Linked DNA regions of Homo sapiens. The protein of the gene in region 2 purifies or fractionates together with the protein of the main gene of each other region. This does not show direct contact. Each region holds a gene or a part of one and is shown on either strand. Other genes may lie near its edges.

What was found. The genes of interacting proteins can lie anywhere in the genome.
Region 1: the proteins of PTPRQ (region 2) and AHI1 purify together in Homo sapiens (affinity purification with mass spectrometry, with the first as the bait; one large-scale study listed by BioGRID). This does not show direct contact.

Annotation. Positions count from the first base shown.
Region 1 is NC_000006.12:135,456,126-135,459,742, forward strand, and holds part of AHI1 (jouberin), read right to left. Parts: intron 1,589-3,617; coding exon 1,369-1,588; intron 1-1,368. UniProt on the Homo sapiens protein: Involved in vesicle trafficking and required for ciliogenesis, formation of primary non-motile cilium, and recruitment of RAB8A to the basal body of primary cilium.
Region 2 is NC_000012.12:80,442,741-80,447,140, reverse strand, and holds the start of PTPRQ (phosphatidylinositol phosphatase PTPRQ precursor), read right to left. Parts: upstream 2,907-4,400; 5' UTR 2,796-2,906; coding exon 2,742-2,795; intron 2,401-2,741; coding exon 2,292-2,400; intron 1,651-2,291; coding exon 1,424-1,650; intron 1-1,423.

The sequences.
Region 1 (3,617 bases), on a different chromosome or scaffold from region 2:
CTATCAATTGGTTTCACATGATTATTTTATTATAGAAATATAAAGTGAGAAGTATGATTATACCTTTGCCATATAAAGCTGGGATAAACTAACTCCTTCAGAATTTTGTAAGAGTTTATAATAAAATAGACATTGCCAGGCACAGCGGCTCAAGCCTGTAACCCCAGCACTTTGGGAGGCTGAGGCAGGTGGACTGCTTGAGCTCAGGAGTTTGGGACCAGCCTGGGTAACATGATGAAACCTCGTTTCTACAAAAAATAGAAAAAAAGTTAGCTGGGCATGGTGGCACATGTCTGCAGTCCCAGCTACGTGGGAGTCTGAGGTGGGAGGATCACCTGAGCCCAGGGAGGTTGAGGCTGTAGTAAGCTGTGATTGCACCACTGCACTCCAGCCAGTGAGACGCAGTGAGATATTGTCTCAAAAAAAAAAAAAAAAGACATAAAATTGATTTTACATAAAAAAGGCACAAGACTGTAAACCCTTTGAGTTGTCATATTTTCTTTGTGTGCCCTAAGGCAAATGAATAGGTGAATGGGCTTTTTTTGGACAATCTTCCTGTTTCCATTCCCCACTGGCTTTCCAAACAATTTTTTAAAAAATTCTAGTATAAATGTGTATTTCATTGTACTTTTCATTTGGGATTTCAAGCATGCATTAGCTATAGAAGTACTCTTAGAAAAAACATTCAAGATTCATTTACCTTACCTGAAGCCCAGATAACATTACTTTCAAAAGAAAAATATGAGGTTAGACAATTAAAGCATTTACAATGCAATATAAAATATTTACAATGCAACTTTATGTCATAAATTACATCTACTAAGCTGGCAGAAGCTCTCTACCACTTAAAATGAATTATTCCCTTCCACTTAAAAGTAATTACTGAGCCAGGCACGGTGGGTCATGCCTGTAATCCCAGCACTTTGGGAGGGTGAGGCAGGTAGATCGCCTGAGGTCAGGAGTTCGAGATCATCCTGGCCAAACCCCGCCTCCACTAAAAATACAAAAATTAGCCAGGAGTGGTGGCGAGTGCCTGTAATCCCAGCTACTTGGGAGGCTGAGGCAGTAGAATCGCTTGAACCCAGGAGGCAGAGGTTGCAGTGAGCCAAGATTGAGCACTGCATTCCAGCCTGGGCGACAAAGCGAGACTCCATCTCGGAAAAAAAGTAATTACTGAATTAGATGTTCTCCATTTCTTCTACAACATTCTGATCAATGTTAATGACTGATGAACACCTACAACTAGTAGACTATTCTCTAATACAAATCCATAACTCTATTCCCACTGACTTTCAACTACCAATGGCAGAAAAAAGACTTCTACTAGTTTCAGTTTCAAGAATTAGTTGTGCAATTAAAAAAAATTACCTATCATCTTTCTTGACATATTGACCAGTATGCTCATCAACCACATGAATTTTTACCATTGGGTGAGAAATCATAAAATCTGACTTAAGTCTATCAGTTCGGTGAATGTAAACTCCCAAGACAAGGTCATCATCAAGCAAACATTTGGGATAAACCGGGCTATCTCGGCTTGTTATTTCATGAACACCATCACCATCAACATCTTCATTATTATCTGCAACTACACGCATGGAAAAAAAAATCAATGTTATAATTAGTTGTTCCCATAGTAGTATTTACATATAACCTAATCTTTAAGATCTGTGATGATCTCACTGTGTTCAAAGGAACTTCAGGGGGAAAGAAAGAAAAAGCCAGACAACAGCAAACCATAGTGTGAAAGTAAAATACTACATTTGCTAATACATTACAAATAAGGTGAAAAATCCTTGTTTATATTTTTCCTAATAAGTAGGAGAAACACAAAAAGAAAAAAAAGAGAGTCAAAGTCAGAAAAGTAACTTTATCCAGGTATTTTCTAAGTAGAATATATATGACAACTAGAATTTCTAATTCTGGGTGGGATGCAGTAGGATGCAGCAGGTAAACACTTTGGGTAACAACTGGAAAGAGCCAAATAAATTACAAATATCTTATTTTAAATTTTAAAGGCATCAGAAAAGTACAGAAAGAAGATATAGTAGACAGATTAAAATTCCAGAAAGGGAGAATCAGTCAGAGGTCAGCTGATGGACTGGCAGCTGTTTTTGTCTCTGGGGACATTTGCTGATTCAGGGTGTGAGCTGAAGATGAGAGTTTGGCTTAGGCAGAAAGTCACTGCCAGGAGAATGAGAAATAAGCAAAACTTTTAGTGATTCCACAGGACTAAAATGATAAAACTGGAGATTTGAGAAGCCTCAAACACATGACCAATTCTTCTCACAAAACTGAATTCTGATGCTACAGAGAAGCTAGAGAGGTAGTGAAATCTCCCAGGCTTGTGGTGCTAGCAGACCATGATCTGCCAGGGGAAGGGGACCAAAACAAAATAGGCAAAGGTGAAGCCCTGGAGGGTGTGGTCAATTTACACTAAGGACCAAGAGCAACTTTTCATCTGGGGTCATCTACCAATTCTGGTCACAGTTCTAGGTTGATAATCCAGGTGTGATTTCTGGCAGAAGGTTGCTACTGAGGGACAGAGAAACCAGCGGATATTTTGGCATGCTTGGGGGCTACAGTGACAAAAATGGATACCTGAAGGATGTCTAACATATAGCCAGTCTCCTGCTCAAAGAATTTGCCAAATTTTGAAGCAGCATGAGACAGAAGACTAAATGGCTAAGTGGAAAAGCACTGAAGGGCAAAACTGGATCTCCCATCGTATTTAGGGCTATGAATTATTAGAGATAAAGAAGGGCGCTGCATTATGATAAAAGTGATAACTTGACAAGAGATACAAGAAAAATAAACTGAAAATCGGAATGGAAATGTTAATACCTCTCTCAACAGCTGACAGAATAAGTAGACCAAAAAAATTAATAAGAAGAACTGAGCACAATTAAACTTGACCTAACTGACATACATAGGACACTGCACTCAACATTAGAAATTGCATTCTTTTCAAATGAGCATGGAATATTTACCAAATCTGACCATAAAATGGTCATTAAAAAGGCCTCAATAAACTCAGAGGATTGAAATCATTCATAATATGTTATCTGACAACAATGGAAGACAGAAACCAATAAAAGATAACTAGAAAAGCATCTGCTGCCTGAAACTAAGCAACATACTTCTAAATAATGATCAATTAAAATGGAAATTAGAAAATATTTTGTGTTAAATAATAAAAACACACAATATTAAAAATTTTGGAGATGCAGGTAAAGTAGTACTTAAATGGGAATTTAGTCTTAAATGCATATAAAAGAAGACTGAAATCTTTCTTATAAAACCCAATTTTAAAGCTAGAAATAAGTAGCAAATCAAACCCAAATAAGTACAAAGAAGGAAAATACAGTTACAAGAAAAAAAATCACTAAAATAGTACATAAATGTACAACAGAGAAAATCAAAGCTAAAGGTTGGTTTTTGAAAAGACTCATAAATTTAAAATCCTAAGGCTGATCAAGAAATTGAGAGAAAACAAACTGCCAATACCATGAATGAAAACATGGGACAGCCTTTCAGATGCTATAGAAATGCAAAATTTGGATGAAATAGACACATCCCTCAAAAACTACAGTATATCAAATAGCTGACAGAAGTAA
Region 2 (4,400 bases):
TGTAAATTAAAACCACAATGAGACATCATCTTATACCAATCAGAATGGCTACTATTAAAAAGTCAAAAAAACAGATGGCAGTGTGGATGCAGAGAAAAGGGAACACTAATACACTGTTGCTAGAAATGTAACCTCTATGAGAAACAGTACGGAGATTTCTCAAAGACCTGAAAATAGATCTACCGTATTCAACCCAGCAATCTCACTGCTATGTATCTATCCAGGAAAAGAAATCATTGTATCACAAAGACACCATCACTCATGTTTATTACAGCATTATTCACAATAGCAAGGTCATGGAATCAACCTAAGTATCTATCATATGGGTAAAGAAAATGTGGTATATATACACCATGGAATACTATGCAGGCATAAAAAATAAAATCATGTTCTTTGCAGCAACATGGATGGAGCTGGAGAACATATCCTAAGTGAAATAATTCAAAAATAGAAAATCAAATACCACACATTCTCACTTACAAGTGGGAGCTATGAGTACACATGGGCATAACAATGGAAATAATAAACACGGGATTTCAAAAATGGGGAGGGTAGGAGAGGGTGAGGATTGAAAAATTACCTATTGGGTACAATGTTTACTATTTGGGTGATGGGTATACTAGAAGCCCAAACCCCACCATTACACAATATACCCACGTAACAAACCTGCACACATGTCCCCTGAATCAAAAATAATTTAAAAAAAAGACATTTCATTGGAGTCTAAATTTTATATACAGAACAAGGCCATGTTCTTAGACCACAATATCTCAAAACCTGGCAAAATTATTTTTACTAAGTATACTTTTATTATTTTACTGTTATGGAAAGAAGTTTACAAAATCCAGTCCTGCAGCTATTAATCCTTCAACGAAGACTTTCTTTCCAGTCTAAAGCACCAAAAAAAAAAAAAACTTGAGCTCCCATATGCAATTATTATACAATTTTCATACGTAAATTGTATAACAGATTTATTGCCCTTTTTACTGTGGTTTCTAGGAATTTGGAGAATAAAGTTTGCAAGTCAATTTTTAATAACTGTGTAACATCCTGTGGTTTACATACCTGCATTCAAACTACCCTGGCCTCTTGTTTGCATTTAAGTTTTCCTTCTTTAACTTTACATAATTTTTATTTCCTAGAGTATTGTATTATATTCATACATGTATATAAATATATGCAAAAATATTCATAGAAAAAATGAAATAGGTAATATATAAATATGCATAAAATTGAAATGAAAAGACACAATAACATTTTACCAAGTTTTAAAATCTCAGGTGGGTGTGAGGCCATGACTGTGAACGTTGTCAGTCACTGACTGTATTCAGCTGTAAAGGCTTGACAAGGTGAGAAAAACCTCCCACACTTTTAAAATGAATGAAATGTTTGAACACTAAGTAGTCATACACAAAATAATTACCTTAATTTCATATGTTGTTCCAGGATTAAGATTAGTAAGAAGAACTTCCAGACTGTCTGGCTTTGATCTGACTTGTGTATATACTGTTTGCATCCACGGACAAACTTCCTTATATTTGACAATGTAAGATATAATCCTTCCATTTGGATTAGGTGGTGTATTCCAAGACAGAAGAATCCCAGCAGATCCGACTCTTTCCCCGGCTAGGAAGACTGGAGGCCCTGGTTCTATTTTTAAAAAATCCATTTTGTTAAAAGGTCAAATAATTATTGCATTTTCACAAAAATACATAATAACAGTATTTATAAATGTAAAATTTGAAATTTCCAAAGAGCAATATGAGTTCACACTCCCTACAGCTCTGTTACTATTAAAAAAATACTATGTGGAATACCAAAAGCATTCCTTTATAAGAATGTGAAAAATGGAATGCTACTAAATAAATACTACATGCCGAATATACTTTTGTTGCCAAATCATTTTTAAAAGAAATTCACTTACGCAAGGCTTACACAGAAAAACTAAGAAAACAAGAAATAATCTTACAAATGGAATAATCCTTCCTGAGCAAATGTAGCCAGTTCATTTTCATGGTTCTGTATTATTTAAATGTTAGCATTAACAGTCTCTCTGATCTATTTCACAAACAAGTATAGAGTAATTATCTTTGCACTTTGAAAGTAAAGGAAGCTGAAGAAACAGCAGAATGCAGGTTCTAAGCAGATCACTTTCTTGTTTCCATTTTGCCTTATTCTACACTGTTTTCATGAATTTAATGTACATGTTGCCAGTATAAGTATTTCCATCCAGTAGAATTATACTGACTCCAAATACTTTACTTACAAAGTAATTTAAAACATATACTCACTTGTTACATTTGTTGTCACTATTCTAGTAACAGGTGAGGTGTATGTTGTAGAAATTGAAGAGATGGTTATATCGTACCTAGTACCAGGAACGACATTGGAAACATCAACCTAGAACACCACAAACAAATAGTTGCATTAAAATTCTTTCTGGAAAGCAAGCAAGCTAAAATAAATCTATCACTATAACAAAAATTAACTCTTCACTATATAACTCTGCACTGTTTATAACATCACAATAAGTTCCATATTATTGTAAGATACAAATATGTTATATAACTTTTTACCAAATGACTTTAAAATAAAAACTTACAAAACGTACTGCGTTATCACAGCCTAAGTCAGCATTTCTATCTATCCTAGTTCACTGTCACAAGGAACAACTATTCAAGTCTTGAGAAATCTACAGCCCATGACTTAGCCCTTGTTTTTAAAGAGTGTATACGAAATACCTGTGTCTCTGAAGTCCCAATAAAAAGTAAAAGAAAAATGATAAGAAAATCCATCTTTATTACATTTTTCAGCCAGTAGAATCACATTGATGGCTCTAGAGAGAAATGTTGCCTGCATTAATGATTTAAAGACAGATCCTTCTGGCAAGTACACAATTAATGAGCCCATATTACTCAATAGCTCTGCCTTTTCTTTGTTAAACTATTCATGAACCCTTGGATGACTGGCTGTAGGTTCAGGGTGAACTTAAAAAAAAAAAAAAAAAAAAAAAGCAGCATAGATGTTGCTAAGGTAACAGTCCACCAATGCTGAAACTTAACACTCATCAGTTTGACATCAACGTTTTTGTCTTCAACTTATGCTTTCAAAAACCCAACAAGGAGTAAGTTTTTGTGGTAGATGGGTTTCATAAAATAAAGAACTTTCCTATTAGGAGCAAAATATAAATACAAGTAGGCTCGGCAAGTACAATAATGAAAACTATACCTGATATTCTCCACCTCCAAGATCTCTGATAGTAACAAAGCCACTGTCAGGAACAAGATCCACTTGATACCTTTCCACATGACCAGAGGGTAGGCTCCAGTGCAGAGAAAAGGAATGTGTGGAAATATTGAAGGCTCTAAGTTTCTCAGGTTGTTCTGGTTCTGATATTGAAAAATAGAGGTTTAAAATAAAGTTATTCTCCTAAAGTTTCAAAAAAATGAAAACAAATAGTATAGGTTCAAGTTCCAAAATAATCATGTTGTTAGAAATCACTGAGTACAATAAATGATCTCTAAGTATACTTGGGTGTTAAACATGTAAATATTTAACAACACCTAGGTTTTAGGTATAACTATCATAAATAATATAACAATTAATTTTCTGTTTCTGAAATATGTCTTATTTGCTAAAAGTCTGCTAGTTGACCAGATTGTTTTTGAAAGCTTATGCTCTAATTGAAAATTTGAGTCATTTTAAAACAAAGTAAATATAAACTATTTATCCAATTACTTGGAAATTTACCAAACAGAAGATAATTGGAAAAATATATAATCAAAATCTTCCAGATTTTTTGAAGGGTGAGCATTTCTGATAAATATTTGTTATTTTATCTTTTTTAATTTTTAATGTCTTTTTCCCTTTACTGTGGTGCTGATCTGATAAATATTTTGTTAGGTGTTTCTTTAAAAGAAAAGATAAGGTTTCATATCAGAAATGAAATATAGTTTTAAAACAAGTACCAATTGTTTTAGCCATTTCAACCATATTTTTCTACCTTTGCTTCCACTTTTTCAAAAATTTTGTTCATGCTGCCTGTACCTCCTCGAAGGGAGTTTTCCACATAAAGTTCTTCTGATTGGTTGCCAATGAGTCAGGTTTGCACTCTGCCTTATCTTTAGTGCAGATTCCAGGCAAACAATATAGGGGGAGGAAGAGAGATTATGAAGCCAAGCATGTGAAAACACGCCTGATGCAGATTCAATCTAACACTGTTTCTAAAAGAAAGGAGGCTGGAATTAATTTTGAACCTCATTTATCATTTTAAAACCCCACTACCAGAAACGATTTGAAAATGGATATAATAAAATGTACATTTTCTAACAAAACTAACAGGGCACATTGCATATAACAAAAATATTAACATAATAGGTCACTTTCTTGGTGTTTCAGGG